2 separate regions of the Homo sapiens genome follow, and region 2 is linked to region 1. Evidence: fine-mapped expression QTL. A gene starts in region 1. The other region holds a variant in brackets. All regions are shown on one strand. Distances are from middle to middle.

What was found. PIP is the estimated chance that this variant, and not a neighbour inherited with it, causes the effect.
Region 2: its variant is fine-mapped to the expression of GCAWKR in transverse colon (GTEx, PIP above 0.99). The same link has a PIP of 0.9 or more in sigmoid colon.

The regions. Positions count from the first base shown.
Region 1 is chr15:100,846,950-100,852,328 of GRCh38, reverse strand. It overlaps GCAWKR (gastric cancer associated WDR5 and KAT2A binding lncRNA), which reads right to left and starts at 2,577. Exons shown (of 4, transcript NR_160703.1): 1 at 2,419-2,577. RefSeq lists an enhancer at 2,451-2,745.
Region 2 is chr15:101,561,197-101,566,575 of GRCh38, reverse strand. It overlaps the pseudogene SNRPCP18. Among named protein-coding and RNA genes, the nearest start is that of LINC02348, 50 kb to the left of the region's middle. The variant G/A (reference allele first, on the strand shown) is at 2,656.

The DNA.
Region 1 (5,379 bases):
TGATCTGCCCGCCTTGGCCTCCCAAAGTGCTGGGATTACAGGTGTGAGCCACCGTGCCCTGACTGTTTTCCTAGGTTTTAATATATATTGCCTTTCTGCCACTACAGACGTGTAGAACCGGGCCTCCGCAGGTGCCAAATGCTGCCTGTCCCAAGTCTCAGAATCTGCCTGTTCTTTACTTTCATCTGTAATATGGGTTGGACACTCAAATTATTTATATGTATTATGCATGATTGTTTTATATTTTTGACTCATTAAAATCACTCAACAATTAAAAAATAATTACAAGTATTAAAATATTTAGATACTTTGTTTCAGTTGTTTCAACTTTGTCAAAATCATGAAAATCACTAAAAGATAAACTTTCTCCTGTCTAACTGAACTTTTGTACCCTCTGACCAACATCACCCCAACCCCCCACACTCTAGCCCCTGGTAACCTCCATTCTACTCTGTTTCTGTGAGTTCAATGTTTTAAGATTCCACCTGTGGGTGAGATCATGCAGTATTTGTCTTTCTGTGCCTGGGATAAATAAACTGTTAGTTTATAACACTTATTTTAAAGAGTTTTTTTTTTGTTTGTTTTGTTTTGTTTTTTTGCGACGGAGTCTCGCTCGGTCACCAGGCTGGAATGCAGTGGTGTGATCTCAGCTCACTGCAACCTCCGTCTTCCGGGTTCAAGTGATTCTCCTGCCTCAGCCTCCGGAGTAGCTGGGATTACAGGTATCTGCCACCATGCCCGGCTAATTGTTTCGTATTTTTATTAGAGATGGGGTTTCGCCATGTTGGCCAGGCTGGTCTCAAACTCCTGACCTCAGTGATCCACCTGCCTCGGCCTTCCAAAGTGCTGGGATTACAGGTGTGAGCCACTGCACCCGGCCTAAATAGTTTTTAACTATTCAATATAGAGCTGGAGGCCATTGTCCTCAGCAAACTAACACAGGAACAGAAAACCAAATACCACATGTTCTCACTTATAAGTGGGAGCTGACCGATGAGAACTTACGGGCACAAAAGGGAACAATACACACTGGGGTCTATTGGAGGGTGAAGGTGGGATGAGGGAGAGGATCAGGAAAAACAACTATTGGGTACTAGGCTTAATATCTGGGTGACGAACTAATGTGTATAACAAACTCCCATGACACAAGTTTACCTGTGTAACAAACCTGCACATGGACCGCTGAACTTAAAGTTAAACCAAAAACATTTAAAAAGTAAAGAGAAAAAGAAAATAAGATAAAATCAATATGCCCACTTTCCTCATCTTTAAAATGAGAGTTGAGCTCTAGAAGGTCTCCGGTTCCTTCAGTCTCTAAAATTTTATGTTCTAAGTTAAGTTTTTATTTGTTAGTTCCCTTTTAGCCGGCACATTCCCAAATAAGTATAGCCAGATCAGCTTTTTTTCCCCCCGAATGACATTATGAAAGATTTTAAACATATAGGAAAGGTGAAAAGACAATACAACAAATACGTGTGTACTCAGCACATAGATTCAGCAATTGATAACATCTACCATATTTGCTTTGTCCCTATGTGTATGCCTGTCCTTGTCAAATCATTTTAAATTAAGTTCCAGACATCCTGGCCCTTTACTCCCCGAGATCTCAGCATGCGATTCCTAGAAATAAGGACATTTTTCTGCATGACACGACACAGTCATCACACCTGAGAAAACAGACAATACTGGACTCAGTCACCTAACTGTAGTGTCTGTGGTACTGTAATATCACCTAAGAAGACGCACAATGTCTCTTTCATTTCTTTTCATTGAAAACAGCACCTCCCACTCCCCACCCCTTGCACTTTCCCAGATAACACTGGCTTTTGAAAAGAGGTGCGACCAGGCGCAGTGGCTCACGCTTGTAATCCCAGCACTGTAGGAGGCCGAGGCGGGCGGATCACGAGGTCAGGAGATCGACACCATCCTGGCTAACTTGGTGAAACCCCGTCTCTACTAAAAATACAAAAAATTAGCCGGGCGCGGTGGCGGGCACCTGTAGTCCCAGCTACTCGGGAGGCTGAGGCAGGAGAATGGCGTGAACCCGGGAGGCGGAGCTTGCAGTGAGCCGAGATCGCGCCACCGCACTCCAGCCTGGGCGACAGAGCGAGACTCCACCTAAAAAAAAAAAAAAAGAGAGAGAGATGCGACATAATACCTTGTCGAATGTTCCATTTCCTCACGGCGTTGCTTAATGGTACTTTGAAAGTTCAGTCTAAGGCTGGCTTGGGTTCAGGTTCAATGTCATTGGCTCCCTCCTGAGTGGGGCTGTGCGTCCCCTCGCTGTTTGGAGGGGACGTTCGGAGCAGCCCGAGAGGCCACCATGCCCCCCGCCCCCCGCTCCCGGGTCCCCGGGAAGAGGCAGCCCGACGGCCCGGCTGCAGACCTCGGCTCTCCCGCAGGCTGCGGGTGGGTTACCTGGCTCCGGGAGACCAGGTTTCCTCGTCTGGGGAGCGCAGCAGTCTCATAGCTGCCGTGAGAGGGTTCGCGACAGAATCACCGCGAAGGGCGGGAGGACCCGGATCGTCGGGAGAGGTGGGCTGCGTGCAGCCACTGCGCGGGGACCCGGATGCACGCACAGGGCGTGGCAGGGGGCGGGGCAGGGCCGTTCGGTGGCCTGTGTGGAGCGATGCCACCTGCTGGTTCTGTACGTCCAGGGGGGCAGCGTGTGCACAGCTCTGGGACCCCGAGGTCCTCGGGGGGACACACTGCTCTCTCCAGCGCACACAGACTCCACACACACACGCCCGCATCACAACGGCAAACACGCGCCACCCCCCAGTTACCCGGAGACACATGCGGGTAAATATGACCCCAGGAACTTGCTGAATACGAGTAACTGTGTTTCATTCCTCCTACCCGTCCGCTGTGGGTTTACTAGAGTTTGTCTTAGATGGCAAATAAGAAAGCTTTTTATTTTAAATGACAGTCAGGGCAAGAATCAGGTTGCTAATTTCCCTGAGACGCATGAGGGTGTAATGACACATCCAGGCTGGAAACCAAGAGTCATTTTCCTTGAAAGACTTAACTTGAAAGTCGGTCTGTACTAGCGAGTTCCAAGGCCCTGATGAAAAACAGAAAGCGGCAGGGAAAGGAGGAAGGAGGAGAGTGAGAGCTAAGTGGATGGCGTTCGGGACACGGCTCTCGTTGGAAGGCACAGACTCTCTGCAGCTCTGTGCGAAACGCTCCTTGCTGGTTGGAGTCCTGGCACCACCGGAATCACTGTGCTCAGATGTCCTTTCAGGGGCAGTGGGTGGCAGCGGCGGCCTTACTCAGGGGCTTCTGCCTGAGAAGGAAAAAGGTTGAGCCGCCTCCCCATCGATTTGTCCACCCCGTTTTCTTTTTTTCTTTTTCTTTTTTTCTTGAGACCGAGTCTCGCTCTGTCCCCCAGGCTGGAGCGCAGTGGTGCGATCTCGGCTCACTGCAAGCTCCGCCTCCCGGGTTCACGCCCTTCTCCTGCCTCAGCCTCCCGAGCAGCTGGGACTACAGGCGCCCGCCGCCACGCCCGGCTAATTTTTTGTATTTTTAGTGGAGACGGGGTTTCACCGTGTTAGCCAGGATGGTCTCGATCTCCTGACCTCGTGATCCGCCCGCCTCGGCCTCCCAAAGTGCTGGGAGTACAGGCGTGAGCCACCGCGCCCGGCCCACCACGTTTTCTTAATGACCTGATTTGGGACTGCAGACAAATGAGTCTGTGATTTTTCATGTGTTTGCGTAAAGGCTGAGTTTGAAGAGATTCCTTCATTTTTCCCCCTCCTTAGGTCTTTTTTTTTTCTTTTTTTTTTTTTGATATGGAGCTTCGTTCTTGTTGCCCAGGCTGGAGTGCAGTGGCTCGATCTCGGCTCACCGTAACCTCCACCTCCTGGGTTCAAGCCATTCTCCTGCCTCTGCCTCCTGAGTAGCTGGAATTACAGGCATGGGTCACCATGCCTGGCTAATTTTGTATTTTTAGTAGAGACAGGGTTTCTCCATGTTGGTCAGGCTGGTCTCGAACTCCCGACCTCAGGTGATCTGCCTGCCTCGGCCTCCCAAAGTACTGGGATTACAAGTGTGAGCCACCACGGCCAGCCTCCCCCTCCTTAGGTCTTTACGAGCACTAAAATTCTATAACTAGAATCCCATCTGAATTCAGTTTTCTATTTCTTCTGATGTTTTATTGTTTGCCACAGTAACTGTAAGGAAATACATAACATTTTGAATAGTTAATCATCAGGCAAATTAGTGTTGTTTGGAAGATTTGCCCACTTGGGCTGGCAAGGTTGCAGTAAAACTGGCACTGGTGGCCCTGCAAATCGGGTCTATCACTTTGGGAGAGTAATAACTTAGTGATATGTATAAAAATATTCCATACTATTTCACTAATATGGCCCCTTGGGAACTAATCCCAAGATAACTGAAGAAAGATACAGTATGTGTGAAAGTGTTCGTTACAGTGGATCATACAACGGAAAAGCTGGAAAGCACGTGTGTGTCAATAGGTGAACTGTATAGTATGACATCCAGCAATTAGTAATTATGTAAATGCTAGAAATGAGGGAGTTATCCACCAAACCACATTTTTGAAAGGTTAAACAACAAAATTATATCTACATTGTAATTATAATTATGTACGTATATGTCAGGTAGTATATGAAAATAGGGTGGAGTAGTGAAATTATGGGTACAATTGTTTTTATTTGTTGTTCTTTACACTTTTTTGCTTTAAAATATTTAAAAAATTACCAGCTTTGTGTCAGGGTTGGTTCAGGATTCTGTGCTGTTTAAGGCATGCATGAGAAGAGTTATTCTTTTTTAAGATACCCAGCAACAAGGTACATAAAAACAAAAACAAGCGAAGTAAGTCAGACTGTGTCACTGACTATAAACAAGTCAACCTGTTTTTCCAATACATGATTCACTGGAAGTGAACACGTCAAAGTGGCACATAGGGCAGCTTTGGGTCAGCTGGAGCTGAGCGCCAACCCAGCACGGACCTTCCTCAGCTGTGTGGCTATTTGACACGAGCTTCAGTTTCCTCATCTGTGCAATGAGAAGATAGCATTCACCTGTGTAGGGCAGAGGTGGGATTGGAGATCCTGGGCCTGGTGAGTGTGGACTCTTAAGAAGAATAGCCTTTCTCTGAGAGGGATTGAAGATGTTTATTTTTCCCCCTTTATTATCTTTTGGAAAACATATTGATATGTGCACCAGACGGTATGAAACATGGGTTGCTATGAAGCTTCCTATCGGTGTCCCCTCATGAAGCAGGACCAGCAGTGACTTGACCTGTCCCTGTCCTGCTCGCCCCCAGGGACCAGCTCTCTCTTCAGTTTTAAAATAAGTTTAAAACCCCGAATGCCTGCATGTCTGAAACATATCAGAAGGCATGGCTAAGCAACT
Region 2 (5,379 bases), 710 kb before region 1:
AGGAATTTGTTGTACGGAGTATTTCATTGCCTAGATATTAAGCTTAGCGTAGGGCTTCTAATAGTTCTAATCCTGTTATGGACTCTGTGTGCATTTGAGCAACACCCCAGGCCTCTGTGTCTTCAGGACTGAAGTGAGAATATTGGAACCAGTGACCCAATAAGGGTGAACATTTTTATTTAAAATATTTTAATTTTAAATCTCTTATTAGATGAAATTCCAGCTATTCAGTGTTCCCCACAAGTCAGTTAACTTGTTATATTCATGCATTTCCAAGCTATAAAATGAAATTTATTATGTCTTGATGTCTCAATGTAGAGGGTACAGTCATAGCTGCCTGCAAATGGAGACGTCTGTTATTCGGATAAAGACATTTTTTATCCATTTTAAAGTTTTTTTATCCAGTTTGGATGATTACTTGGCTATTGTATTACAACTACATTGCTTGCAAGTGACAGACACCCAAGTCGAATTATCAACAAGATGAATTTATTATTGGCAGGTGTATAAATTAGGATTCTTAGGCGCAGACTACAGAATCCACTCCAGTTTATTTAAGAGAAAGGAATTTATTACAGCCTGTCATGTGGTTTGTTAATTTCTGGGCAGGTCAAAGACCCAAGCTTAGACCTTAGAGCCAGGAGAAATACATGCCTAGATCACAGGACTCTTCTGAAAACTCCACTGCCACTGCTGCTGCCCATAGCTTAGGTTTGGGATGATAGACCCTCTACCCCAGCTACTCAGAACAGCCAAGCACCTGGGCCATTCTACTTGCTGAAAGTCTGATCTCCCTGAGTGTTGCCACCACCCTGGGGTGCTCATTTCCAACTCCCAAGTCTGCAGGTGTCTCTGCCTGGTGGGACCCAGGTCACATGTGAAACCTTCTCTGCAAGGGAGTCTGGGAAATGCAGACTGAGGCTTCCCATCCTCTAGATTCCCGGGAAGACACTGGGTAGGTTGTGAGGGTACCAGTCTGTGGGGCATGACATAGCAGCATCCTGGAGGACCCCTCAGAATCTGTGGGCAGTGTGGGGCTGGGCCTTAGGGGCAGAGCTGGGCACTGGGCACTGTGGGGAGGTGAGGACGTCATCTCTACCTCCTTGTTTCCTCTGCCTCTCTCTGCCTGGCTGCTGCCTTGGAGTAACACAGCTTCCGGGAGCACTAGAGTTTTACATGTTAGAATCCAGGTCCCACAGGGGTCTAAGTCCCAGTTCCAACCTCCTTGGGAGAGTGATGGGTTGGAACTGGGACTTATCAAATAGCCATCCGTATGATAACCATTGGAAACAGAAGAAACCAACGTTCCAAACAGGAGAGTAGCAGAGGGTAGAAGTGAGGTGTGGAGACCGGGCGTGGTGGCTCATGCCTGTAATCCCAGCACTTTGGGAGGTCGAGGCAGGAGAATCGCTTGAACCAGGGAGTTGGAGGTTGCAGTGAACTGAGATCACACCACAGCACTCCAGCCTGGTGACAGAGTGAAACTCTGTCTCAAAAAAAAAAAAAAAAAAAAAAAAAAAAGTGGGGTGTGGAGTCTCTGGGCAAACCAAATAATACCAAGAAGCCAAGAATTCTTTTGAAGCAACTTTACCCCTCAGCTGCTATTGGCTGAGTCTAGGTCTGTCTCCTTCCTGCATGGCAGCATGATTTTCTTAGAATGTTACACAATCCCTGTCCTTCTGGGCTGTGGTCATCAGGAGTAAAGGGTGGTGACAGTGAATTGTCAGGGCTGGGCAAGCTTGGCCTGGGTGAGTATCCAGCCAAGTGGCCCTGGGCAAGCCCCTCACTCCTGTCTTCCCTATTTGTAAAATGGGCTTGCAATGGTGCTTCTAGAGATCATGGAACCTATACATAAGATACAGGGATCCTTCTCCACAGCATCCTACAGGAGCAAAGGCACCAGCGTGCTCCTTCAGATCCTCCAGAACCTTGTCTGGACACTGGTGTCCTCTAGAGAAACCTCCTTTCCAGCCGTCCCATACCCTCAGCACCTACGGTCAGACAGAACTGATCCTGGCCTCCAGATGGCCTTTTTGTAGCCACTGGTAGTGCTCCCCTTGGCCACTCAGCATTCCACTGGGACACCAAGCCTCTTTTTTTGTTCCAGGCCTAATAATTATAGAATCTTTCTATGCAAGTTTTATAACCCTGAGTTTTTAATAAAATATCCCAGATTATCTATATACAACAACCCATTGGAAAAACAGCAATGATTGACTCTAATCCCGCAACCAGTTTATATCTCAAAAGGAAAGGCTGGCTGGGCGCGGTGGCTCACGTCTGTAATCCCAGCACTTTGGGAGGCCGAGGCGGGTGGATCACCTGAGGTCAGGAGTTTGAGATCAGCCTGGCCAACGCGGTGAAACCCTATCTCTGCTAAAAATACAAAAATTAGCTGGGCGTGGTGGTGTGCACCTGTAATCCCAGCTACTCAGGAGGCTGAGGCAGGAGAATCTCTTGAGCCCGGGAGGCGGAGGTTGCAGTGAGCCGAGATCGTGCCATTGCACTCCAGCCTTGGCAACAAGAGCGAAATTCCGTCTCAAGAAAAAAAAAAAAAAAAAGAGGAAAGGCTAAGAAAATAACACTTAGAGATTCCAAGTGACCTTGCGTCTCCAGATTCAACCCCAGTACTTGAAAGCTTGAAATTCACAGAAC[G/A]TAAAATTAACCATTTTAATGTGAACAATTAGTAGCATTTGGTAACTGCACGATATGGTGCAGCCGTCGCCTCTATCTAAGCCCAGATTTTCATCACCCAAAAGGAAACTCTGTACCTGGTAAGCTGTGGCTTCCCATTCCCCTTTCCCTCCATCCTGGGCAAAGACTAAGTTGTTGTCTCTATGGATTTACCTATTTTGAGCATGTCCTATAAGTGGAATACTGCAGTATGTAACCATTTATGCCTGGCTTCTCTCACTTGGCATCATGTTTCCACAGTCCCTGCATACTGGAGCATGTACAAGTGCTTCACTCCTTTTTAAGGCTGAGTAATATTCCACTGTATGGATAAATCACATTTGCTTAACCATTCATGATAGACATTTGGGTTGACTCCACATGTTGGCTGTTGGAATTAGTGCTGCTATGAGCATGGGGTACATGTGTGAGTATCTGTTTTCAATTCTTTGGAGTACATTCCTAGCAGTGGAATTGCTGTGACATATGGGAACTCTATATTTAACTTTTTGAGGAACCGCCATACTATTTTCCACAGTGGCTGAGCCATTTCACATTTCTGCCAGCGATGTACGAGGGTTCCAATTTCTCCACAACCTTGTCAACACTTACTTTTCGTTTTTAAAATTATAGCCATCCTGGTGGATGTGAAGTGGTATCTCATTGTGGTTTTTATTTGCTTTTCCAAGACTTTTTTTTTTTAAAAAACTGAAAGAGTTGGCAATTTTATGTTCACATTTCACAATACAGATGAAAACTGTACTTTTTTGGTCTCACTTCTCCCCTCCAAAACTATTCTCTGGTAGGAAGGGGGAGCAGGTCTTCCTTATGCTGCTAAGGAAACACCCAGCGTCACAGCACCATGGTCTCCTGGAGAAGAACAAATAGCAAAAAGCTGATATGACGAGGTCTCTCCACTATTCTAATCTGTCTGGCTTAGTTATTCTGGGCTGCGTGGGCTCCACCATGCGATGGGTGGGCGGGCTCATCCTGGGGGCCTGGGTAACACTGGCATGTGACATCCCATGGGTGGCCTCATTCCAGGAGCAGGTCCCATGGCATCACCCTCAGGAGGAGGTGGGCCTGTCACTGGCACCATAGGAGGACCCCCCATAGAGGGTGCTGGCATCACACCAGGGTGGCGAGGAGGACCTGGGCGCTGGTGGAAGTGGGATCCCTGCCCCTGCAGGAGGAGGAGTGGAGAATGGAGCAGGAGGTGTCCTTCCTTGTTGAAATGCAGCCGTTGTCCTGTGCATCAGGCTCGGAGCCTGCTCTTCCATCCCTTTCCGGCGCAGGTCTTTCCTGTCCTCTTTGTGTTTCCCACCGCCGCCCTGTGTCTTTCTCGCAGATGGAGACTCATGGGTGAGGTCTGCACCACGGTGATACCGTCACAGTCAGACTCGGGCTTGTTGCTCCGTGGGCCATTGGCCCGGAAACCACGTGCCTCCAAGAACGTTTTGAAGTGAGAGATGACGCTTTGTTCTTGATTTCTTGAGGTGAATTCTGGCAAATAGGAGATGGGCTGAAGCCTGTAGCAGAGTAGATGTTGTCCGAATTTGCCAGCAAAAAAGAAAGACCTGTGGACTCTAGAAGCTGTAGCTTCCAATCCCCAGTCACATTCGAGGAGATGGTGTCCACAGAGGAAGAGCGTGGAAAATGATTTCCCTACTGGACTCATGGCCACATCACCGCAATAGTGCATTTTTACTTCTGCATGGTGTTTTACCAAGTTACACATCTTTGTGAACAGGACAGGGGCCTGTTATGTGTTATGGATTGGCGGGTTCCCTGTGGTGTACACAATCTTACCCCAAGACAAGCCCTGGTCTGGAGGGCTCTGTGTGTGGCTTGCCGGTATCAGGGACTTCTGGGGCCAAGACTGGGAAGAGTTGGGGTGCAGCACCCAGCGGCCAGTGCTCAGGGAAGTTCTGGGAGGCCTGGGCTTCCCAGAGACAACCTGATTGCCTATGAAGGTGAGGCTGAGTTGGGACTGGGTTCTGGGCTGCATTCAAACCCAGATGATACATGTCCAAAACGGGGCCCTCTGGGTGGACGGCAGCACAGGGGTAAGGAACCTCGCTGATTTAGCTGAGCTCTGGCTTCCGTGGGTGGAGGAAGTGAGGCCCTCTCAGGAGCTAACCTAAGAGATGAGGCCATTCTTGCACGGCCACCGCTGAGGTGCGATCGCACAGTGCAAGTCCTCTGTGCTGTGAGCCGCCCGCACTCTCAGGACATGAGCGCTGGCCCCTGCATGGAGCTCCAGGACGGCGGAGTCCACCCGGCAGCCCATCACAGGCGGGGGCAAAATTCAAACCTCCTCTGCCTCTTGCCTCCCCAAGATATTGCCTTTGTTGTCCGCCTGCTCCCTTGTCCCCCAGCTTACACCTGGTACCTTTCCGGCTCCCACCTCCGTTACTGGTTGCTTCTCCCTATTCCTCTGCTACGGAGCCTCTGCAGCCTGAACATGTGGTAATGATTCCTTCCTCTTTTCTCCCAGGCCCCAGAACTTTGTGCGCCTGTGCCCTGCACATCCATGCAGCTTCTCCATGAGGCAGCCTAGGCCTCCCAGGACTTCCCTGCGTGACTTCCCTGAGCACCGGCCACTGGGAGCTGCACCCCAACTCTTCCCAGTCTTGGCCCCGGAAGTCCCTGATACCTGGTAAGCCACATGCAGAACTCTCCAGACTGGGCTTCTGTGGATGTGAC